Homo sapiens: one gene and its partners. The protein of the gene in region 1 purifies or fractionates together with the protein of each later gene. This does not show direct contact. Each region holds a gene or a part of one and is shown in the gene's direction. Other genes may lie near its edges. The genes, in order: CDK11B, RBM25, GPATCH2, GPATCH8, NKAP, PNISR and SPDEF.

What was found.
Region 2: the proteins of CDK11B (region 1) and RBM25 fractionate together in Homo sapiens (co-fractionation; one large-scale study listed by BioGRID). This does not show direct contact.
Region 3: the proteins of CDK11B (region 1) and GPATCH2 purify together in Homo sapiens (affinity purification with mass spectrometry, with the first as the bait; one large-scale study listed by BioGRID). This does not show direct contact.
Region 4: the proteins of CDK11B (region 1) and GPATCH8 purify together in Homo sapiens (affinity purification with mass spectrometry, with the first as the bait; one large-scale study listed by BioGRID). This does not show direct contact.
Region 5: the proteins of CDK11B (region 1) and NKAP purify together in Homo sapiens (affinity purification with mass spectrometry; 2 studies listed by BioGRID, with this or other methods). This does not show direct contact.
Region 6: the proteins of CDK11B (region 1) and PNISR fractionate together in Homo sapiens (co-fractionation; one large-scale study listed by BioGRID). This does not show direct contact.
Region 7: the proteins of CDK11B (region 1) and SPDEF purify together in Homo sapiens (affinity purification with western blotting, with the first as the bait; one study listed by BioGRID). This does not show direct contact.

What each region holds. Positions count from the first base shown.
Region 1 is NC_000001.11:1,635,005-1,638,504, reverse strand, and holds the end of CDK11B (cyclin-dependent kinase 11B), read left to right. Parts: coding exon 1-5; intron 6-621; coding exon 622-743; intron 744-991; coding exon 992-1,097; intron 1,098-1,302; coding exon 1,303-1,424; intron 1,425-1,500; coding exon 1,501-1,608; intron 1,609-1,651; coding exon of another isoform or gene 1,652-1,706; coding exon 1,707-1,823; intron 1,824-2,023; coding exon 2,024-2,172; intron 2,173-2,378; coding exon 2,379-2,568; intron 2,569-2,648; coding exon 2,649-2,741; 3' UTR 2,742-3,280; downstream 3,281-3,500. UniProt on the Homo sapiens protein: Plays multiple roles in cell cycle progression, cytokinesis and apoptosis. Involved in pre-mRNA splicing in a kinase activity-dependent manner. Isoform 7 may act as a negative regulator of normal cell cycle progression.
Region 2 is NC_000014.9:73,114,034-73,117,533, forward strand, and holds part of RBM25 (RNA-binding protein 25), read left to right. Parts: intron 1-252; coding exon 253-300; intron 301-3,500. UniProt on the Homo sapiens protein: RNA-binding protein that acts as a regulator of alternative pre-mRNA splicing. Involved in apoptotic cell death through the regulation of the apoptotic factor BCL2L1 isoform expression.
Region 3 is NC_000001.11:217,429,292-217,432,090, reverse strand, and holds part of GPATCH2 (G patch domain-containing protein 2), read left to right. Parts: intron 1-725; coding exon 726-946; 3' UTR 947-2,799. UniProt on the Homo sapiens protein: Enhances the ATPase activity of DHX15 in vitro.
Region 4 is NC_000017.11:44,426,907-44,430,406, reverse strand, and holds part of GPATCH8 (G patch domain-containing protein 8), read left to right. Parts: intron 1-3,500.
Region 5 is NC_000023.11:119,920,172-119,923,461, reverse strand, and holds the end of NKAP (NF-kappa-B-activating protein), read left to right. Parts: 3' UTR 1-2,790; downstream 2,791-3,290. Other genes in the region: AKAP14 (A-kinase anchor protein 14), read right to left, coding at 2,855-2,954. UniProt on the Homo sapiens protein: Acts as a transcriptional repressor. Plays a role as a transcriptional corepressor of the Notch-mediated signaling required for T-cell development. Also involved in the TNF and IL-1 induced NF-kappa-B activation.
Region 6 is NC_000006.12:99,408,309-99,411,808, reverse strand, and holds part of PNISR (arginine/serine-rich protein PNISR), read left to right. Parts: exon of another isoform or gene 1-844; coding exon 845-1,068; coding exon of another isoform or gene 1,069-1,092; exon of another isoform or gene 1,093-2,463; intron 2,464-2,464; coding exon 2,465-2,636; intron 2,637-3,500.
Region 7 is NC_000006.12:34,546,330-34,549,829, reverse strand, and holds part of SPDEF (SAM pointed domain-containing Ets transcription factor), read left to right. Parts: intron 1-3,500. UniProt on the Homo sapiens protein: May function as an androgen-independent transactivator of the prostate-specific antigen (PSA) promoter. Binds to 5'-GGAT-3' DNA sequences. May play a role in the regulation of the prostate gland and/or prostate cancer development.

The sequences.
Region 1 (3,500 bases):
AACAGGTGGGTGGGGTCCCCTCACCCCACAAAGGCAGGGGAAGTGGGGCAGGGGCTGGCTGCCCGAGAGCTGCGACTGCACCTGGGCCCGCCTCACCTGAGCAGCTACTGGAGGTTGGACCCCTCAGCACCTCTAGAAGCCAGAGGTCAGCCTGGCCCTGGGGCTTTGCCACTCCCTTGCAGTAGCAGGCGGCCTGCCCCACAGGGCCGAGGCCCAGCGCGTGGAGTGGTCTGTGCCGGGGCTGGTGTGCAGGTTTGCGTTCCCAGCGTCCCACCCAAGCAGGTGTGTGAGCCGGGAACTCTGTTGGGAGTCGGCCACTGGGATCCCAGGTGAGGCCGGCTCTGTTGGGGAAGTCGATGTGGAGTCGGCGTGGCCGCTGGGATCCCAGGTGGCTGTAGGTGGCTGTGAGTGTCTGTGGTGTGTTGAGTGGGAAGCCGTGGGTGTTGCCCAGACCTCAGCTGGGGCGTTCTCCTGGTGCCCACGTGCCCCCACCTAGAACGAGACCCCCCTCCGTGAAATGCTGGCGCTTTGGGCACTGCCTGCGGTCCTCACTGAACGAGTCCACTGTTGGTACCGTGACTTTGAGAATGCCTCTCAGTGCCGTCTGTATTTTCTTCACAGATGAAATTGTGGCTCTAAAGCGGCTGAAGATGGAGAAGGAGAAGGAGGGCTTCCCGATCACGTCGCTGAGGGAGATCAACACCATCCTCAAGGCCCAGCATCCCAACATCGTCACCGTTAGAGTGAGCATGGCCCCACCACGCCTGGCCCCGGGTGGAAGGCTTTTCTGACAGGGCCCCGTGCTGTCCTGGGGCCGGGTGCTTCCTACACTCTCCTGCACTTAGTGGAGCCCTTCACAGACCACACAGAAGCAAGCATTTGCCTCCCGGGTGGCACCGGAGGTCCTTACTGTCCCTCAGCAGCTGCACCCGGGTGCAGGGGTGGGTGGGGGCCTGGAGGTGCCCAGCACCCACAGAGCCGTGCCCTGCAGGAGATTGTGGTGGGCAGCAACATGGACAAGATCTACATCGTGATGAACTATGTGGAGCACGACCTCAAGAGCCTGATGGAGACCATGAAACAGCCCTTCCTGCCAGGTACAGCCGCGCCCCAGGGGCCTGTCTGCGTACAAGTGGGGGCAGGGTCCTGGTCACCCCCGCGGTGACAGTGCTGCAGGGAGGGCCAGCTGCATCCACAGGGAAAGCCCTGAGAAGCCTCTGTTGCTGCCGAGGCGAGTGGGCCACCCTGAGTGCCCTGGGCTGGGGGCAGCCAGGTCCACATGGGAGCTTCCCTCCCTCCCAGGGGAGGTGAAGACCCTGATGATCCAGCTGCTGCGTGGGGTGAAACACCTGCACGACAACTGGATCCTGCACCGTGACCTCAAGACGTCCAACCTGCTGCTGAGCCACGCCGGCATCCTCAAGGTGAGCCCCCCTCCGAGTGGCCCATCCCAGGGAGACCTGCCGGGGCCCACTCACAGCCGCCCATCTGTCGTTGCAGGTGGGTGACTTCGGGCTGGCGCGGGAGTACGGATCCCCTCTGAAGGCCTACACCCCGGTCGTGGTGACCCTGTGGTACCGCGCCCCAGAGCTGCTGCTTGGTGCCAAGGTGAGTCCTGGGCGTCTGAGTGCCTCCCCTGTCCCCCACGCAGCCTCCCACAGCTTCGCGGGCACTGGCCCTCCTGAACACCTCTCCTGACCTCTTAGGAATACTCCACGGCCGTGGACATGTGGTCAGTGGGTTGCATCTTCGGGGAGCTGCTGACTCAGAAGCCTCTGTTCCCCGGGAAGTCAGAAATCGATCAGATCAACAAGGTGTTCAAGGTGGGTCTGGCCCTGCTGCAGGTGCGCTGTGGGGTTGTGGAGGAGTTGCAGGAATGGGGCTGCGGGGCGCACAGGTGCTGGGTTGAGATGGGGACCAGGGCCACTGAGAGCCCTCCTGGTGGCTTGTCTTCTCTGACGGGACACAGGTGCCAACACTGTGGGCCACTTGGTGTGGCTGTTGAAGCACCTCTGTCTTTCAGGATCTGGGGACCCCTAGTGAGAAAATCTGGCCCGGCTACAGCGAGCTCCCAGCAGTCAAGAAGATGACCTTCAGCGAGCACCCCTACAACAACCTCCGCAAGCGCTTCGGGGCTCTGCTCTCAGACCAGGGCTTCGACCTCATGAACAAGTGAGCCCAGTGCAGCCGGGTGGCGGGAGGTCCCGAGCCATAGCGGTGACTTCCCAGTCCCAGGCCTACCTGCTGGCTCACCACGTTCCAGAACTGCTCTGGTGCCTGGCGTCCCATGCCCTGAGCCCCGTCCCAACACAGCCCATCTTTGGGGGACCCAGTGGAGCACACGAGCACCTCCTGGGCCTCTGGCCCTCTCCCCCCAGGTTCCTGACCTACTTCCCCGGGAGGAGGATCAGCGCTGAGGACGGCCTCAAGCATGAGTATTTCCGCGAGACCCCCCTCCCCATCGACCCCTCCATGTTCCCCACGTGGCCCGCCAAGAGCGAGCAGCAGCGTGTGAAGCGGGGCACCAGCCCGAGGCCCCCTGAGGGAGGCCTGGGCTACAGCCAGCTGGTGAGGGGCCTGGCGGGTGGGGCGTGCCCACAGGTGGGGCTGGCTTGGGCAGGGTTCTCACGGTAGCCGACTCGTCCCAGGGTGACGACGACCTGAAGGAGACGGGCTTCCACCTTACCACCACGAACCAGGGGGCCTCTGCCGCGGGCCCCGGCTTCAGCCTCAAGTTCTGAAGGTCAGAGTGGACCCCGTCATGGGGAGAACTCAGCCGGGACCACAGGCGTGGCTACTGCGGCTGGAGCTGCGATGAGACTCGGAACTCCTCGTCTTACTTTGTGCTCCATGTTTTGTTTTTGTATTTTGGTTTGTAAATTTGTAGAATTAAATCATTTTCCTTGTTGTGGAGGAAAGAGCTGTGTTTTCTCCGTGACTTGCCCAGGGCGGAGAGGGTGGACATCTTCGGGTGCCCACGTGGGGCAGCACAAACCTCCACACACCCTCTCCCACTCTCGACACGCACGGGGCTGGCTGGGCCGTGATTTGGAAAGGAACTGGTGGGAGCCGGGTGGATTGTTTAATCTTCGGAGCTGGAGACCTGTTTCTGTGTTGGGATGAGCGATGCCCTCTTGCCCCAACCCACTCGTCCAGACCAGCCCTGTCCACACAGGCCCCCGGCCCCCAACCCCCAGCCCCAGCTGTGCCAGCAGACTCGACAGGTTTTTATACAAGGTTGTTGAGTTTTAAAATGTATTAAAATATTCTTCGAGGAAAGCTCCCCGTGTCGTCCTTTGAGTGACCCGGGACCATGTGTGGGAGGGGAGTCGCAGACCACCGGGCTCTAGGGGAAGAGGGTGGGGTGGGCGGCTGTGGCCTCTGACCCCATGTGGGCCAGTGTCTTCCCCAGGCAGGAGGGGAGCTCCTACCTCCTGGGGGGCCTCCACTCTGGCAAGGTGGTCCCCCACCCTGTGCCAGTCCTCCCAGCCCCCACCCAC
Region 2 (3,500 bases), on another chromosome or scaffold:
ATTATTGTGGCATTAAAACTTGTGTGAGATTTGACTTAAAATTAGACTACAGACCACTATGGAGATTAATATTCCAGGTTTTGGTGCCTCTTTCGTTGAAGAATGATATTCTGAAAATTAAAACATTTATAGAATGGTTCCTTAGCCGCAAGAAGTTCCTGTATGAATTTGAGGATTCATACCTTAAAATTTCTTGACTGTATTGTTAATTTTTTATTTATTTTTAATGTGACAATTATTTTTCTCTTTTAGGTTATGGCTCATAGTTCACCCCAGAGCATTTTAGATGATGTTGCCATGGTAAGTTAGAAATTCACTATTTTTATTTCTTTTAATTTAAAAAAAGTTTTTGGTTTTTTTTGTCTTAAAATATAGATGGGGTCTCACCACGTTGCCCAGGGTAGTCTTAAATTCCTAGGCTTAAGTGATCCTCCTGCCTCAGCCTCCCAAAGTGTTGAGATTACAGGCATCAGCCACCACACCTGGCCAGAAATGCACTATTATTAATATTTTAATTAACATCTATATAAACTCACTTTTGAATTTGATTCACTTCCTGCCTGTCTTTGTTCCAGAATCTTTTTTAGGCCTGAATTAAAACTTGAGTAATCCCAGTACTTGGGAGGCTGAGGCGGGTGGATCACAAGGTCAAGAGATCGAGACCATCCTGGCCAGCATGGTGAAACCCCGTCTCTATGAAAAATACAAAAATTAGCTGTGCGTGGTGGCGTGTGCCTATAGTCCCAGCTACTCGGGGAGTCTGAGGCAGGAGAATCACTTGAACCTGTGAGGTGGAGGTTGCAGTGAGCCGAGATCATGCCATTGCACTCCAGCCTGGTGACAGAGTGAGACCCCATCTCTAAATAAATAAATAAGGCTTCATTCTTTTCCACCAGTTCCATTCATGTTTTCCCTATGCCCAGCACAATGTGCTAGAAGCATAAAAGTAGAACAAATGACCTGTAGTAGCAGAGAGATAGGTATACAGGTACTGGAACCTTGATGTACTTGTTTGAATTAGATATGTAGAAAGGATAATGGAGGTAGAGGAGATAGAACATCTGATGGCATTGATAGCAGTTAGGTTAAGCATCACAAGGATTACTACAGGAACTGATACGTGTGTGTGTGTGTGTGTGTGTGTGTGTGTGTGTGTTTTAAGTCGGATACATGTGCAGGTTTGTTACATAGGTAAACTTGTGTCATGGGGGTTTGTTGAACAGATTATTTCATCACCCAGGTGTTAAGCCTAGTACTCATTAGTTATTTTTCCTGATCCTCTCCCTCCTCCCACCCTCTGCCCTACGATAGGCCCCATTGTGTGTTGTTCCCCTCTCTTCGTTCATGTTTTTTCATCATTTAGCTCCCGCTTATAAGTGAAAACATACTGTATTTGGTTTTCTGTTCCTGTGTTAGTTTGCTAAGGATAGTGGCCTCCAGCTCCATCCATGTCCCTGTAAAGGACACTATTTCGTTTTTTATGGCCACAAGATTGTACATATGTGCTGCTTTTTGGACAGGTATCCAAACACCTGTTGTATTGACAGTAAACATCAAATCCCCGTTGCATTTAATTTGGGATTACAGTCAGTGGTAGCATGTAGTTAACACTGTGATTTTGTGAGACAAGGAAAGGAGAAGAAAATTGATGGTAAAGGTTGAGCAAGAGATTGAACTATGATCTCCAAGTTAGGAAGAGAAGAAAATAGTATCTGAATAGAGCTGGTGGTTTGAATGAATTAAGGACTAGTGGTTCCAGTGAAGTTGTGGAAGGCGAATTGTAATAAAACAACTGAAAGGAGAGGTTATGGTCAGAGTGTAGAAAGTTCAAGTCTATATGTGATAGGTCAGCCCAGACGATGGCAAGGTGCATAGTATGACTATGGGAAATTCCTGGGTATTGGGAGTCAGATTGGAGAGAAATACTGGAAATAGTTGCCAGAGCACTCATTTAAGTGGGGGGAAAGACTAGATACTTGCCAGATAGCTGCTCTTACAGTGGATAAGGTGGTGAGAGCTCATGAACGTCCATGGAGTTGTTTTTTTTTTTACCAAGAAAGAAACAGTGAAGACCCACAAGTCATTCCTGTGGAGATTAAGACATTGAGAGTGAGAGACTGCCTGAGAAGTGCCGGGGCTCTAGGAGATAGAGGAGGGTTTCTGTTAAGAGGAAAAACCTAATTTAGTTGTTGATGTGTAGTATAAAATGGAATAGCGGTCCAAAGGGCAGAGCGGGAAGACAGCAATGGGAAGATGAGTAAGGAAGGAAAAATCATCAAGCATGATATGAAATGGTAGATGACTGGGAGTACTTGCACTTGGAACTGCCACCAGAGATGTCAGGGAGGGACATCGTGGGGTTTATAGTCAAAAAGAAGGATTGTGAGGTCTAGCTGCTTTGTGTCCAGGCATTTTATGGTGTCTAAAGCCAGATAACATTCCTTTTCTGCTGCCTAGCTAGCTTGATGCAGCTGTCATTTAGAACACCTGATAAAACATTTGTGAAAACTTCATTGCCTCAGAGGAAAGGAGAAATGTGAATAGATTTCAGTCCTTGGGGCTGAATTCTGAACTTTCCTGAAGCTTCCAGCCCCGTTTTTCTTGGAGTAGAGGGTGTCGTAGTTAGGCCTGAGTGAAGACATTTTTTAAATAAAACTGTGTTCTAGCGTTTGGCCTCAGCAGAGTTCCTATCATACATAGTAAAGATTTCATGTCAGTGTTAATTTTAGATTTTTTGATCTGTTGTAATATATTGATATTTGAAGTGTATTTAGACCACTGTTTATGATTTTGTGGCTCGTTGATTAGAATGAGAGGAAACCAGTTGAGCTAGTGTTGTCAAACAGCTCTGCTAAAAAGCTCATGGGGCCTTGTAAATATTTCTTGAATAAATGAGGAGACTGAATTTTTAGCCTGAGTACTGTTTCACTCTTAACAAAAGTCTGACTTCTTTATATTATACCTTTTTCATTTTATGTAAATTAAATGAAGTTTGGTTGCATTTTGTGCCTACATCTCTCTGAAGTGTGACTCAGATGTGAATTAGTGTTACAACAGAGTTCTTCAACTAAAGTCAAATCTGGCTCATAGAAATCTGATCAAAAGTTCTTTAATTAATTATTGCTATCATTGAGAAAGTGACAGAAATTTCTTTCTTTTAATTTCTTTCTTCTTTTCTTTTTTTTTTTTTTTTTTTTTTTTTTTTTTTTTTGAGACAGAGTCTTGCTCTGTTTCCCAGGCTATATGGAGTGACAGTGGCGCGATCTTGGCTCACTGTAACCTCCACTTCTTGGGTTCAAGCAATTCTCCTGCTTCAGCCTCCCAAGTAGTTGGGATTACAGGTGCCCACCCGCACGCCTGGCTAATTTTTGTATTTTTAGTATTGACGGGTTTCACCATGTTGGCCCGGCTGGTCTCAAACTCCTGACCTCAGGTGATCTGCCTACCTAGGCCTCCCAAAGTGCTGGGATTACAGGCGTGAGCCACTGTGCCCAGTCTCT
Region 3 (2,799 bases), about 220 Mb from region 1:
CTGCAAATGTATATAATATATTTTTTAAGTTTTATAATATATATCTCTTTAATATTATTTTCCTCTATTTTCTTTCTACTAACTTATATAATCATTTAAACATGGCCATGGAAGGAAAAGGAGGAAAGGAACTAAAGGAGGCATATGTTACAGACTGAATAATAAATAACAAGGAGAGAGATTATAAGAATGTAAATTCCTAGGAATTCAAGATGCCACCAGTTGTGCTTTTTGTTTGGTTTGGTTTTAGTTTTGGTTCTGTTGAATGTCAAGGTCATGGGCAAATGTGAGATATTACAATATAGGTTGGTGATTTTCTGAATAATCCATAAGGCTAACATGGTAATGAAAATAAATCCATTAGTAGAGTACTTTATGGTTTACTGAGAAGTTTCTTTACATACATGATCTCATCTGTCCTACAAAGTTCTGTGAGATAGGCAATGTAGGTTGTATTATGGCTGTTTCACAGATGAGGAAACAAAAGCCCAGAGAGGCTGAATAGCTCACCCTGCTGTGAAGTGCTAGAATTGAAATTCTAAACAAGATCTTTCTTCCATTGTTCTCTCAACTACAAAAAGTATCCAAAGATGAATACGCAACCCCCTCTAGTACCTGGTTGAAAAACAAAACAAAACAAAACTTAGGAGAACATCGTTTTCATAGCCTAATATCTTCACCTGTGTTCATACTGATTAATGTGTGCTGTTGTTTTATCATTTCAGGATTTGTAGGTGAAAATGCCCAGCCAATCCTAGAAAATAATATTGGAAACCGAATGCTTCAGAATATGGGCTGGACGCCTGGGTCAGGCCTTGGACGAGATGGCAAGGGGATCTCTGAGCCAATTCAAGCCATGCAGAGGCCAAAGGGATTAGGACTTGGATTTCCTCTACCAAAAAGTACTTCCGCAACTACTACCCCCAATGCAGGAAAATCCGCCTAAGAAAAGCAAAGAAGAAATGTTTTACAGACTTTATTCACTATGTCCCATTGTTCTAAAATGATAACATGACTTCTGTTTTTGAAGCAAAAATCTACATTGCCTCAAACACATCACTCTAGCTTCCTTACTGCATACAGTCCTGCCATAGTGAGAGAAATGGGATTTCATCACAATTCATGGTGCTAAAATGAAAACCTCTGCACTTTAATTTTTTTCAGTAATTTCCAGCTATTTCTAGGTATAAAGAGCAGCTCGTTTCTCTTATTTATTTTAGTCTCATGTGTCAATACTTTCCGATGCTTTGCTTAATTCATGTATGTGTGCAGTGCTGCAATGCCCAGACAAACGTGAGCACACCCACCAGTTTCTAAAATGGAATAGACAGGAAAAGATTGTGTTTTATATCATCCCTATCTATTGTAACCCAAAAGACCTACCATCGCATCAGTGAAGTCCGAACACATCTTTGTTTGAAAGGCTTGTCAATTTCATATTCCTTGAATTGGCTTCTTGGTGAGGATTTTCTGACAGAGTGATACCCATCAATTTTCTATCCTTAGACAATGTAGTGTGAAGTTCACAGTTGACAAACAACAATTAATGTTTCCCTTGGATGTTTTGACAAAAATAAACCTCATCGTTGTTATCACCAGAGTGCCCTCTACCTTACTTTAATGCAGATTTTATAAATTTTACCTCATTTAGAACATAAAATAATTATTGAAAGAAAAATGTATTTTTTAAATTCACCGTGATTGAACTGTAAATTCTATTAATCCAGATGTACTTCTACCTCTGTTTTCCCAAAGATTGATATTATTTTTAAGATCAACTCAAGTGTAGTAAACGGATTTAAAATTTTAATCATTGGAGTAATTTATTACAATATTGAATCAATTTACATGAAAAGTTAAATGGCTCTCCCAGAACTCAGATTTCTGGCAATGACCCAACCCATTTAGAAGGTGAACAAAAGAAGTAAATGGTACTGATTTGCCCTTTCTAGGACCCAAGATGTTACTTTAAAACCTAGCAAAAGAGGTCGTTTGTATTACGTGCCTAGTATTGAGCTGTTTCTGAGTCATTTGCTTCATAGTATCAGAAATTCTAAATTGCTTTTAGTTTAGAAGATCTTTATTTATTATCTTCATTATTAACAACTTATTATGATGATGATTATTATCATTCTATTTATAATGGCCTTTGCTGGTTGAGTAAAGACTGAGATAACACATGTGAATCACCTTTCTAATGGGTTTTTAAAATCTTGTCACTTTCCAAAAGAGTTTTTTTGTTTCTTTTTTTTTTTTTTTTTTTTTGACAGAGTCTGCCTCTGTCGCCCAGGCTGGAGTGCAGTGGCGCACTCTCGGCTCACTGCAGCCTCCCCCTCCTGGGTTCAAGTGATTGTTCTGCCTCAGCCTCCCAAATAGCAGGGATTACAGGCACCCACGACCATACCCGGATAATTTTTGTATTTTTAGTATAGACGGAGTTTCACCATGTTGGCCAGGCTGGTCTCGAACTCCTGACCTCAAGTGATCCGCCCACCTTGGCCTCCCAAAGAGCTGGGATTACAGGCATGAACCACAGCGCCCAGCCCCCAGAAGAGTTTTTAAAAGGTGTTAAAGGAGGTTTATGCACGTAACAGACCTTTCTCAGGTGGTCCCCTAAAAAAAATCCTGCCAACTAGGGAGGGGAAGTCCAACCTGCTATTTGAAAGCCTTCACGGTTTGCCAAATGTACATTTCTTGAGAATTATCTTCTTTCCCAGGGATATTGTACCTAGAGGACAGGTTGGTTAGGGAACTATGGACGACCAGAAGAGATGTTCTTTTGAAGCATTCTTACTGGAT
Region 4 (3,500 bases), on another chromosome or scaffold:
TAATGGTGTATTACATTGTAGTGGTGTATTACATTGATTGATTTTTGTATGTTGAACCAACATTGAGTTCCTGGGATAAATCCCACTTCGCCTTTTAATATGCTGTTGAATTTGGTTTGATAGCATTTTGTTGAGCATTTTTGCATCTGTACACAGAAAAGATATTAGTCTGTAGTTTTCTTGTAATGTCTTTGTATCAGGGTAATACTCAGAATAAATTAGGAAGTGTTCCTTCCTCTTCTATTTTCCCTTGCATTTTAAAATGGTTTTTTAATGTGTTTTGTATCCTAAATATGTATTGCTTAGTTTTATGTAGTGGGTGGGTGGGTGGGTCGGTGAGTTGGTTGGTTGGTTGGTTGGTTTTGAGACAGTCTTGCTTTGTTGAGACAGTCTTGCTCTGTCGCCCAGGCTGGAGTGCAGTGGCACGATGGCTCACAGCAACCTGTGCCTCCCGGGTTCAAGCAATTCTCATGCCTTAGCCACCCAAGTAGCTGGGATTACAGGCGTGCGCCACCACGTCCAGCTAATTTTGTTTTTTTTTTTTAGACGGAGTCTTACTCTGTCACTCAAGTTGGGGTGCAGTGGCACGATCTCAGCTCACTGCAGCCTTCACCTCCTGAGTTCAAGCAATTCTTGTGCCTCAGCCTCCCGAGCAACTGGGATTACAGACACGTGCCACCATGCTCAGCTGGTTTTTGTTTGTTTGTTTGTTTGTTGTTTTGTGTGTGTGTGTGTGTGTGTGTGTGTGTGTGTGTGTTTAGTAGAGACGGGGTTTCACCATGTTGGCCAGGCTGGTCTCGAACTCCTGACCTCAGGTGATCCACCTGCCTTGGCCTCCCAAAGTGCTGGGATTACAGGCGTGAGCCACCACGTGGCCTAGTTTTACATGTTTTTTAACTTTATATAAGTGGAATCAGTTTTCTTGTATATATATATACACACAAGATTTTCTCCAGAGTGTGACATTTATTTATTTTCTTGTTTCCATTGCTGTAAGGGGTTAAACCTGTGTTCAAGGAATACACATAGGCTTAACTTCTTAAAGCAATATACTTTAGCCTCTGTATAATGTTGTCATTATCCTTTTTTACCTTAAAATTCTGCAGCTTCAGATTCATGGAAGGGTCTTTTAAACATTTTTGTTAATTCTTAGCTGTATTATACTGTGTTGATATATGTTGTGCATATTACTTCTTCATTTCTGACTTTATTACAGTTTCTTCTATAGCCTATAATGGGCTTTTTGTCTGTGTAAATATTCTTTTTTTTTGAGATGGAGTCTCTGTCGCCCAGGCTGGAGTGCAGTGGCGCCATCTCGGCTCACTGCAAGCTCCGCCTCCCGGGTTCATGCCATTCTCCTGCCTCAGCCTCCCGAGTAGCTGGGACTACAGGTGCCTGCCACCACGCCCGGCTAATTTTTTGTATTTTTAGTAGAGACAGGGTTTCACCATGTTAGCCAGGATGGTCTCGATCTCCTGACCTCGTGAACCGCCCACCTCGGCCTCCCACAGTGCTGGGATTACAGGCATGAGCCAGCGTGCCTGGCCTTGTCTGTGTAAATATTCTATGAGTACTGTTTATTTGAGATAGGGTCTCACTCTGTCACCCAGACAGGATCTCACTCTGTCACCTAGAAGTGCGGTGGCAGTGATCACAGCTTACTGCAGCCTCGACCTCCTGGACTCAAGCGATCCTCCCACCTCAGCTTCCCGAGCATCTGGGGCTACAGGTGCATGCCACCACACCCAGCTAATTTTTATATTTTTTGTAAAGACAGGGTTTCACCATGTTGCCCAGGCTGGTTTTGAACTCCTAGGCTCAAGCTGTCCACCCACCTCAACCTCCCAAAGTGCTGGGATTACAGGTGTGAGCCACTATGCCTGGCCTCTACAAGTACTTTTTTTTTTTTTAATTGAGATGGAGTCTCACTCTGTTGCCCAGGCCAGAGTGCAATGGTGCGATCTCAGCTTATTGCAACCTCCACCACCCAGATTCAAGTGATTCTCGTGCCTCAGCCTCCCAAGTAGCTGGGATTACAGGCGCCCACCACCACACCTGGCTGATTTTTGTATTTTTAGTAGAGACAGGGTTTCATCACGTTGGTCAGGCTGGTCTCAAACTCCTGACCTCAGGTGATCCACCCACCTCGGCCTCCCAAAGTGCTGGGATTACAGGAATGAGCCACCGCACCCAGCCTACGAGTACTTTTTGAAGGACTTCCCCAGCCTTCCAAGTAACTGGGACTACAGGTGCACACCACCACGCCTAGCTAATTTTTTGTATTTTTGGTAAAGATGGGGTTTTGCTATGTTGCCCAGGCTGGTTTCAAACTCTTGAGCTCAGGTAATCCGCCTGCCTCGGCCTCCCAAAGTGCTGGAATTACAGACATGGGCTACCACGCCTGGCCTATTTTATTTTTTAAGTTATTATGTGGTCTCAAAGTGGGAAATAAATGGATGGATGGATGGATACATGGATGGATGGATGGATATAGGATGGATTATATTTGTGTTGTTCTAGTTACCTTTATAACTTAATGAAATTACCCATGTTTGAGTGTCCATTATTTTCGTACTATAAGCAATAAAAAGCTAGCTTGTTTTCTCTTCTTTCCTCTTCCATTTTAAAAACTCTATCATATAATGTTAATAAGTAAAATGGCCATTCTTAGTATGTGGCTTCATACCATTTAATTATTATATTATGTACACTACTTCTATTACTTAATAATTTTCATGTTTTGTAAAGTTCTTTTTACTTCTATTGAGTTTGCAGAAGTAAGCAAACTCAAATTCATATCTGCTTCTGCCTGCCCACCCAGTTTTTTATTATTTGTATCATTTCTATTTTCTGACAGCATATAACATACATAGTTATATGTATATGTTACAGTTATATGTATATACTTTAATAGCCCTATTTCTTTTAACCTTAGTTATAGGAGTAAATGGTTTTAAAGCAGTCTGCCAGTTCTTTTGCTGAGTTTTCTTCTATTATTTCTGAATTTTGTACCCTATTAACTTACTTAAAAGTGGTTGTGCAAACAGTGTTTCTTGAATTATTTATATATATATGTATTTTATATAAACATAAGCCTATAAAAATAATTCACATCCAGCCTTGGGCACCATGATGAAACCCTGTCTCTACGAAAAATACAAAAATTAGCCAGGCATAGTGGCATGCCCCTGTGGTCCTAGCAACTCAGAAGGCCGAGGTGGGAGGATTAATTGAGCCCAGGAGGTCGATGCTACAGTGAACTGTAATTGCACTACTGCACTCCAGTCTGGCCAATAGAGCAAGACGCTGTCTCAAAAAAAAAAAATAGTAATATTAATTTAGGCAATTACATATATATCAACTTATGTATATGTGTGTATATATGTACACATACATATAACTCCATATATACGTGTATGTATTCCCTATATTTGAAAGATACATATAAAATCCTAAGTTAATTCTTTCCTTAGATATCTTATAGTATTTATTGTACCACT
Region 5 (3,290 bases), on another chromosome or scaffold:
GAGAAACTAAAATGATATTAAATATTTTTAACTGTCTTTCATATACTAAGTAGATTTCATTTTAAACACTTAAACCTTTCTGTTTGTTTTTAAGTTGGGGAGAAATGGAAAATTGTGGGACTATGATATCGTGGTCTTGTTCCTTTGTTTATTTCGTTCAATTTTAATTAGGTCAGAAGAGTGAATGGGGGAGGGAACCCAGGAAGTTTTGGCTGTTTTCATTAAGGTTGGTTTTCTGTTTTTTGTTTTTTGAGATAGAGTCTCACTCTGTCACTCAGGCTGGAGCCCAGTGGTGTGATCTCGGCTCACTGTAACCTCTGCCTCCTGGGTTCAAGTGATCCTCCCACCTCAGCCTCCCAAGTAGCTGGGATTACAGGCACTCACCACCACAACTGGCTAATTTTTGTATTTTCAATAGAGATGGGGTTTCGCCATCTTGGCCAGGCTGGTCTCGAACTCCTGACCTCAAGTGATCTGCCCGCCTCAGCCTCCTGAAATGCTGGGATTACAGGTGTGAGCAACCGTGCCTGGCCGTTTTTGTTAAGGTTATTTGATCTGCATTATTATTACATGCCTATGATAAATTTAAATTACCTGAGTGATAAGGACATTCTGATTATACTATTGTAAAATGCCCGCTTGCCTTATATTTTTAAGTGGTTGTTTTTCAAAAGTGTTTAAATAAGGCAGTCATATTTCAAAGTATAGAGCAAAAGTTTTTTTATTATTATTTTTGAGACAGGGTCTCCCTCTGTCACCCAGGCTAGAGTTCAGTGGTGCAATCTCGGCTCACTGCAACCTCCACCTCCTGGGCTCAAGCAATCCTCCACCTCAGCCTCCCGAGCAGCTGGGACTACCAGTGTGCACCACCATGCCCAGCTAATTTTTGTATAGTTAGTAGAGACAAGGTTTCACCTTATTGCCCAGGCTGGTCTCAAACTCCAGACCTCAAACAATCCGCCCGCCTCGGCCTCCCAAAGTGCTAGGATTATAGGCGTGAGCCACCACACCCGGCCCAAAGTTTTATAATTAAACAGTATTAACAGTCTTAAATACTATTAAATATATGTTCCAGGAAATGTCTACTTTTAACCCGCAACTACTGAAAATAAGAGTCAGCATGTAGCAGCATTAATGACCCCTGAATTTGAAATGATTTCTGTTTATTTATACCTAATTGTAGTTGCTGCCTAGCCTAATAAATCTGTAGTTTTCAAAAGTTAAAAGAAACTAGTTCCCAAAGTTTTGAGTCTCAATCCATCTACTTCCCTGAATAATAAAACCTGAATTTTGTAATACCCACTTAAAAATTTTATTCTCAGCTGGGCGTGGTGGCTCACACCTATAATCCCAGCACTTTGGGAGGCCGAGGTGGGCGGACCATGAGGTCAGGAGATCAAGACCATCCTGGCTAACATGGTGAAACCCCATCTCTACTAAAAATACAAAAAATGTAGCCGGGCATGGTGGCACGTGCCTGTAGTCCCAGCTACTCGGGAGGCTGAGGCAGGAGAATTGCTTGAACCTGGGAGGTGGAGGTTGCAGTGAGCCGAGATCAAGCCACTGCACTCCGGCCTGGGAGACAGAATGAGACTCCGTCTCTAAATAAACAAACAAATAAAAATGTATTCTCTAAGGACATTTTTTTTTTGGTTACTGGTTCCTAGAGATGAAATGATTATCTTATTTTCAGTAGGCAAGGTAGTTTAAATGCAGAAATTCTGCGATATATGAATATTGTGACATCAAGAACAGCTTCATTGGCATATTCTTTGGGAAAGAGGCAAGAAGAATAAAAGGGCTAAAAGTATTTTATTTTCAGCTTATGAGTGTTGTTACTGCTTCAAATTGTGTTTAGTCACCTGAGCCATAAATCAGTTGTAGTAGGGCTATTGTATTTTAAATATATTTTTTGTTCTCCAAGGAGACTTATCTAGTTTGCCACCTCCTTGCCTATTGCTCTGATGTGGTTTTCCCTCCTTTTTTATTTATTGCACAAATATCTAACAGTTAAAAAAGAAAAATTTCAGTACCATATCAATTGTCTTTCATATTTTGTGTTCCTCCTTTCCAGTGCTTTTCTATGTAAGTAAATATTCTGATGTACTTGTAAGTAATCACTCAGAGCATAATGTAATTTTGTCTTTGGTGTCTTAAAATTTTGCAGCCAGGCAAGAGAGGTTCACAGGGAAGGTAGGAACAAGTGATTATTCAGTGTGAGGATGGGAAGAAGATCAAAGATAAGTAAGGGCAATGATTGTATCCTTCCCGTGTCATTGCCCCTAGTCCCCAAGCCACCCTCCTGCAATCATGAGTATAGTGGTGTATTGTGGAAGGCAGCATGCCCAGTTTTCCAGTTTCAAAATATATTATTTAGCAGTGAGGCTTAACTCCCAGTAAATGAAGGGGTCTGTGAGTAGGGGAACCCTTCAGACTGGTTATATTATGAGCTGTAGAACTGTTGCCATTTTGTTGTTCCCAGTTGTGCCCATAAAGAGATGTGTCTGAGCTGGAGACTTAGGCTCAGATGGGGAACAAACAGCCAAGTACCAACCTTAGTTTGGTCCAATAGGTGAATTTTAGCAACTCTCTAAACTCAGCTCTATACCTGTAAGACTCAGAAGTGATACATATAGTGATAGAAAAAAATACTTTAGAAAATAGAAAACAACTTACTGGTTACTCTGCTAATGTGATGGAGGTTGCAGAATGGAAAATGAATGAATGCAAAAAAATACAGCTGGATTGTGTGCCACAAGTTTATTACTCAATAAATATTCTGTGGTTTGACGTGCTGTATTGTATTTTTAATGTATCCTGATGAGAAAAACAATCCTAAGACATCCTGTAAGTATCAGACACGATTGAATAAGAAGGGGAATGACTCCATGAAACTATATTTGGCATCAGTAAGATTCTTCTGCCAGTTTTCTCGAAAGCGAACCATTCCTGGTCTACAAAGGAAGAAAAACAAACACTTTTAAAGTATTTTTAAATCAAAAGCTTTTAAAATCAAACAAAGGGGATTCCCTATTTACTCTTTTATATTCCTAGTAAGCAAGAAGCCTCTTTTATTGGCGGGGGAGGGGAGGTAGCTAAGGTTCTCTATGTCTATCCTTTACTGTTTCTTAAGCCCAGTCAATGAAAGGATTTATGAGCTTATATGTAAAGATACTTTAAGAGAGCTGCTATAAAAGGGATTATTATACATGAGTTAATTTTATGTGATATTGAAGTTTTCCTTAGAAACGATAGACATGACCCACTTTGCCTCCACCCCACTCCAGCAA
Region 6 (3,500 bases), on another chromosome or scaffold:
AAAAAAAAAAAAAAAAAACCTTAAAACTTAGTCAGGCATAGAGGCGCATGCCTGTAGTCCCAGCTACTTGGGAGGCTGAGGTGGGAGGATTGCTTGAGCCTAGGGGATTGAGACTGCAATGAGCTGTGATCACGCCACTGCACTCCAGCCTGGGTGACAGAATGAGTCCCTCATTTAAAACAAACAAACAAAAAAAACGAGAATTCAGATTACTTTTAAAAACATAAATATTCTAGTCTTTGATACTGTGAGGTGGTTCATTTCTAGCTTTCTTGAAAGTGAAATTTCCCCACATTTGAAAATGTTTTAGTTCCTAAGTTTAAGTTCTTAAATGACTCCCGCGGGCATCCCTACCCCTTAGTTTTACTCTACTTTGTGACCCTGGGCAAGTGATTTACCTCTGTGTGCCTCGATTTTCCCTCCCGAAATTGGCAAAAATAATACCTAATTTCTCCCTACCTCACAGGGATGTTGTGAGGATAAATGTGTTCGTGTAAGAAAGAAATTATATAAAACCTCAAGGTATTATTTTTGTGGTGTTGTTACTAAACAAATATAAAAATTCAACAAAAATAGTGCTTTGGATTTTGTTACATTTGTTAAAAATAACTTTGGGCATTTGGTTAGGATATGAATTAGAGTGGAGTTAGCTCATTTTGAATTATATATGACAGTTTAGTTCATTGCTTATTTTTAAGATAAACAAAAGGAATTTGACCAAGAAGTCATAAGTTGTTTTTTAAATCTGTATGTTTACTGAAAAATCTTTCTTGAGATCTTAAAATTCTGTGTTGATTTTGTTATAACCGCCTGTTGAATGTTTTTATGCCTAAATCTTAAATAGAATGGGGAATGCATCAGCAACCCCCACACCCCCCTCCAGATCAGCCATGGATGCCACCAACACCAGGCCCAATGGACATTGTTCCTCCTTCTGAAGACAGCAACAGTCAGGACAGTGGGGAATTTGCCCCTGACAACAGGCATATATTTAACCAGAACAATCACAACTTTGGTGGACCACCCGATAATTTTGCAGTGGGGCCAGTGAACCAGTTTGACTATCAGGTGAAAGATATTTTGTTGCTTTAATATTGTAGATGTGCACGTAATCCATTCTTTGGAAGTGTCTCATCAAGAATACCTAAGATACGTGTTTCACTTTTCAGACTTGTATAAATAAGCACATTCTGTCTCAGTTATCAATTTTTGAGTATTAAAATAATTAGAATTTGTTTTCTGATTTTTTTATTTCATTAGGAAAATGGTATAAAAGATCATTACGGAAAACTTTTGAAAAAATTAAAAATGTATAAGTGCAATAGCTATATGATGTTTTATTTTCTAATTTATATTTCAAAATGGTATATTTAAATGTTAAAGACTAGAGAATGCACAGTAATTGAATATAGCTCATGGTTAAGACATGAATAAAAAATATAGATCATTTTCCTAAGTGTAATTCCTTGTGCTATGTAGAATTATGACTGTTTTTCTAGTGTCATTTTTTTTCCATTCTGACATGACATGTTAATGGAATTGTATATAATTTCCTCTGTAGCATCCAATTCATTCCTAGGGACATAGAACTCTGTGGGGAATAGTGTTGTATGTTGGGCTTTATTTACTTCATTCCCTCTGCCAGGGTCTACCCTTAAATTATAGTGCTAGGTGTCATTTTGAAATAACTGATTGCAATTATTAACTTATAAACTGCTATCATAATTTAAAATTTTGAAAGAATTATTTCATGAATTCTAGGGTAGATTTGATAATGGACATCTAGTATTCACCTTGAGATGGTAATCCTCTCATTAATAAATATTCAGATACTTGTATACTTGGTATACAGATACAACAGTTTTTATGTTGTTTGAAGAAATATAATGGCAGGGAGCATCTGCTTACCCTACTTTTGCATGGTAGATCCCATGTAAACAAGACAAAGAGCTGTATTGGCAGCTGGCCTAGAAAAGCCTCTGAAAATAGCAAAATTGCAGAAAATATTTAATGATTCATTAACTTCTATCTTTGCTTATAAATGAATATATCTGCAAGATTATAGAAACAGCTTAAGTTGTTTAGTTCACTTTTTGTTCACTGTAAGTAGGATGTTGAAATTGACAAAAATGTCTAGTTAAAGAGAAATTAGTATCTATTTGATGTCTTAGTGTTGGTAGGATTAGCTTGTAAATGGATTCAGAATGAAAAATTTCATATACTTCTTGAAAGTAGCTTATCAGCTGGCTTTTAGAAGCCTCTTTGCATTTACATAGCCGGAAAATCTTAAGACAAGTAAGCCTAGGTTCTTGGGACCATAGAAGTATCGGTGGATATTAGAGCCATGGAATTCTTGGATGTGCTGCACACATGGATTTCTACTGTCCCAGTTCATAACACACGTGTGTCCCAGAGAGTATATTGTATTAATTTGAAGAAAAAATAAACTGCAATACTCTTTCAGCATGGGGCTGCTTTTGGTCCACCGCAAGGTGGATTTCATCCTCCTTATTGGCAACCAGGACCTCCAGGACCTCCAGCACCTCCCCAGAATCGAAGAGAAAGGCCATCATCATTCAGGGATCGTCAGCGTTCACCTATTGCACTTCCTGTGAAGCAGGAGCCTCCACAAATTGGTAGCTATTTAACTTAGTTTAGTGGACCACAATTGGCATGACTTTTTTATCATATAAAAAGGATGTCTTGTTTTCTTAAAATTGTTTGAGTATCTCTGATGTGTTAGGAATTGACACTTTATTTTTTATGGTCATAAAGCTTAAAATTACAAAAATGATACTGGTCTGAAATTAAAAGGTTTAAATAATTTTATTTAAACCTTTACATTAAATTCCAGATTTTGTGATGAAGTGAAAATTTATGCTAGCCATAGCATGTTGGTATTTTCTTCAGTGTAGGCATTTCAGTACATTATACAGATATATGAGCCCTTCTCCTTTTAAATCTAATTGTTCAATCTCTGTCCACTCTTAGTTCATCTGATGCACTGCTGTCAGATTAATTTTCCTCTGGTTATTTCACTTCCCTTAAGTATTTTGGCAGAAAATTTCAATTTTTTAAATAACATTATAGAGCCAGCCTATTTCAAGTGACAAATACATATTTATGCCACTTTATATCTGGAAAGTTCTAAATTGTTCAGTATTTAATGGACAGGAGCATTTGTTAATAAATCTTTACTTTTTACATTTTAGGAAGATTCTAACTTTACTCCTTTTTTAACTTACTAGCAAATCACTTAATTTTTTCGAGTCTCAGTTTCCTCACCTGTGGAAAAAAGTGGAGTAATAGTAGTGATCTCTGAGGGCTTTTGTAAGGATTAAATTAGATGATGGTTTAACATGCTTTCATTGTGTCCTGGCAGATTGTAAGCACTAGAGCAGTGGTCCCTGCTGTTACTAAAAGTGATGGCATTGAAGAAAGGCATGATATTTAATGGGATATTTTTTAAATTTACTCACAAGTTTGTAGAAATATTTTAC
Region 7 (3,500 bases), on another chromosome or scaffold:
GGGGCTGAGCAGCAGGGCCAGAGTGGCCATCTCTGTCACTCCCTCAGTGCTCTTCTCAATGGGGACTAAAGCTGGGGTCTTGGGCTCTGGGCGGGCTGGCATTGGGTCTCAGGATTGAGGTAGGGGTGAGGATACATTTACCCCACACCACCATCTCCCCAGGAGGTAGGGCCTGAGAGCCGGGACCAAGCAGGATATGGAAGACAGGCTCCAACCCGCACAGCGACCTGGGTCCTTAGCAAACGCCTCCCAGGTGACTCCATTCCCGGAAACTGTGGTTCGGGAGCTGTCAGGGAGGGCATCTTTTGCTGATGCCAGTTGGGGTGTGGGAGTGAAAACCTGGGAGGCAAAGGGTTCAAGGGGCACATTTCTAGCCCCGAGGGGTGAGAGTAGGCAGGGTAGTGGCAGGAAAAGCTGCACTAAATCTCTCCTTTTGGGTCCCTCTGCTCACTTTCCTTAATCTTCCTTCCTGGGGGAATGGAAGGCGCTGAGAGAAGGGGCCCAAGGTGGCTAATCCCCCTGGCCGCCACCCCACCATTCTGCTCCTGTCTCTGGGCCTTGGCCTCCACCAGCTGTTACCAAACTTTCTTTGTCTGGAGTGGGATCTGGGGCCTCTGGAGCAGGAGGGAGCCAGGACACGCTGAGCCTTAATCCAGACATGTGGCTTAATCCAGAAGAGATCAACTCGAGGTTTGGGAGCTGGAGGCATCGCTCAGGAGACGGCAGCCCGTGGGACTGGCAGGCCAAGGCTGCAGGAACGCTGGGTCCTGCCATCTGAGGACCCTGGACATGGCAGACACCTGGCACGTCCCAGGACCCTTGGCCTACGGAGCAGTGGCCTGAGTGTCAGGAGGCCTCTGGTCTGGCCCTGGCTGTGCTGTGTGACTGTGGGCACCTCCCTGCCACTCTTTGAGCCTGAGCTTTTCCAGTGCACATGTGTCCCCATGGGTGGACCATCACTGATGGATTTAATCCTGGGCTGAATTGCATGGCACAGATGAGGCGAGCCTAGGAAGTCGCAGGAGGGAGCTATTAGGGAGGGCTCGCTGGGGCAGGAGGGCTTTGGGATGAATTGTGATGAGAAGGAAAGGGCATCTTAGAAAATAGCCATGTTGTGCCCACAGCACAGGGGCAGGTATGAAATGCCATTCTCATTAGAGCTTGGATTTGTGGTCACTATGTCAATCCCTGGTTCTGGTCCGGACCCTGCTGCTAATAAGCACATGAATCCCTTCCCCACTCTGGGCTTCATTGTTCCCATTCTATGAAACAATCACATAATATATGGCCCCTTCCAGCTCTGATTATCTGGGCCAGGTAGGAGGTAGACTCAGAGGTAGGCACCAGCCACTGGGATGGGGCAATGGGGAGCCATGGGAGATTCTTGAGCACAGGGGTGTCTGATGAAAGGGTGCTGCAGGGATATGAACAGTGGGGTGGAATGAAGAGCCAAGAGGTGGGGACAGACTTTAGAGCATCAAGGAGCCCAGTCAGGAGGTGGGCAGATCCCCTAGGAAGATGGGACTGGCCAGAGCATGCACCTCAGAGAGAATGTGGTCCAGTGAGCAGAACCCACACCTGGCCAGGAAGAACCCTGGACAAGCTGCACAGCCTCCCTGAGCCTCACTGTCCGCATCTATAAAGCAGGGCTCTGGAGTCCACGTCACCCTGGCTGTGGGTAGGAAAGCGGGTGATGTGGGTGAAAGCCTGGGCGTGGCACTGGTGCTCACTGCCAGGGGCTCACAGTGCCGTTCTCTCTTCTTCCCTCCTGAGGCCAGCCCAGAACCTTGAGACGCCTAGTTGCAGGTTGGGCACACCAGCCCTGGCTGCCTGACCAGTAAGCCAAGCCCCCCTACTCTAGGCCTGGGCTGCCTTGGGGACGGAGCATTCCCCACCACCCCTGATCTGCAGAGAGTCGAACCTTTCCTCCAACCACACAGTTAACCATTAACTTATTTTTCATCAGGGAAGTGTTGGAGCTAGGACCGAGGCTTGGTGGGGAGTAGATTCCTTGGCATTTAGGTATAGGGCAAGGTCAAGCTGGAATGTGGGGTATAGAGGGTGAAGGAGCCCGAGCCAGGAGTCAAAAGACCTGGATTTGGGGATTTACCTCTCTGCACCTTGACTTCCCCATTAGCAAAGTAGGGATGAGAATAAGACCTGGGCCAGATGAGGTAGCTTGTGCCTATAATCCCAGCAGTTTGGGAGGCTGAAGCAGGGGGATCACTTGAGCCCAGGAGTTCGAGACCAGCCTGGGCAACATAGTGAGACCATGTCTCTACAACAGATTTTAAAAATTAGCCAGGCATGATGGCACACACCTGTAGTCCCAGCTACTTGGGAGGTTGAAACAGGAGGATCACTTGAGCCCAGGAGGTCGAGGCTGCAGTGAGCCATGATCATGCCCCTGCACTCGACAGAGCGAGACCTTATCTCAAAAAAAGAGAGAGTAAGGCCTGTGCTGCCTTTCTCCTGGCAAGGGGATGGATGTGAGGGCTTCACATGCACTCAGCAAATGTGTCAAGGATGTGTCATTATATGCCTTCCTGGCAAAAGCTGCCACCTGCCCTGCCCATTCATCCCCACCGACCCCACACAACCATGCCTGAAACACAGCAGCTGCCTCCTGTCCTACCTGTGGCTGAGGCCAAGCAAACAGGAGGGCCACAAGGGAAGCGAGTTCTGCTTCTTGGAAAAGCTTCTGTCTCCCTGGCATGGCGCCCAGGGTGTTGGCAGAGACTGTCCTAACGTGGCAGGCATGGGGGCTCTGGGGATGTGGACGGGGCAGGAGGCAGGCAGGGGGTGATGAAGGAGGGGTGGGGGGCTGCGGGGGGGGGTCCCCAGGGGTGGAGCCACCTAGCGGGTAGGGCATGGGCACCAGGCAGGGTGGGGCCCAGGGGCAGAGCGAGCTGTTGGCACTGCCTGAGTAAATAATGTGGGCCCACAGCACACACGAGTGTTTGCACAGAAGGACTTGAAATGATTCCAGGTCTGCCCTCTGTCCCCCACATCCCCAGCCCCGCCTTGGTCTCTGCCCACCCCACCCCACCCTGACCTTTCCTTCCTTGTCACTTAAAGGAGCCCTTGAATGGGAGAGTTGAAATCAAAGGGAACACCCTTCCCTCCTGCTGGCATTTTCTCCACCACAGGAAGCTGCAGGGCTGCCATGTAACACTGGGAAGGTTGGGCACTGCACAAGGAGGGTGGGCAGAGGAAGCTGAAATTCTACCTAGGCTCCATTCGTCAAGCTATGCTATCCAGGGGGAAGGGATGTCATTTTCTGAGTTGTGTGAAATTGAATGGGCTAGCTGTGGCCCTACCGAAGTGGAGGTGTCTTCCAGACTGGGTTCTTTCCCTTGTCCCACCTGCAGAAGCAAATGCCAGCTGCATACGGAGGCTGCGCGGGTCAGTCTCACAGGGTAACTGGAGATGGATCAGGGAGCCCCCTTCCCCTCCTGCTGTCCCAGTAGGGCACCATAAATGTCACTGTTAGAGAGGAT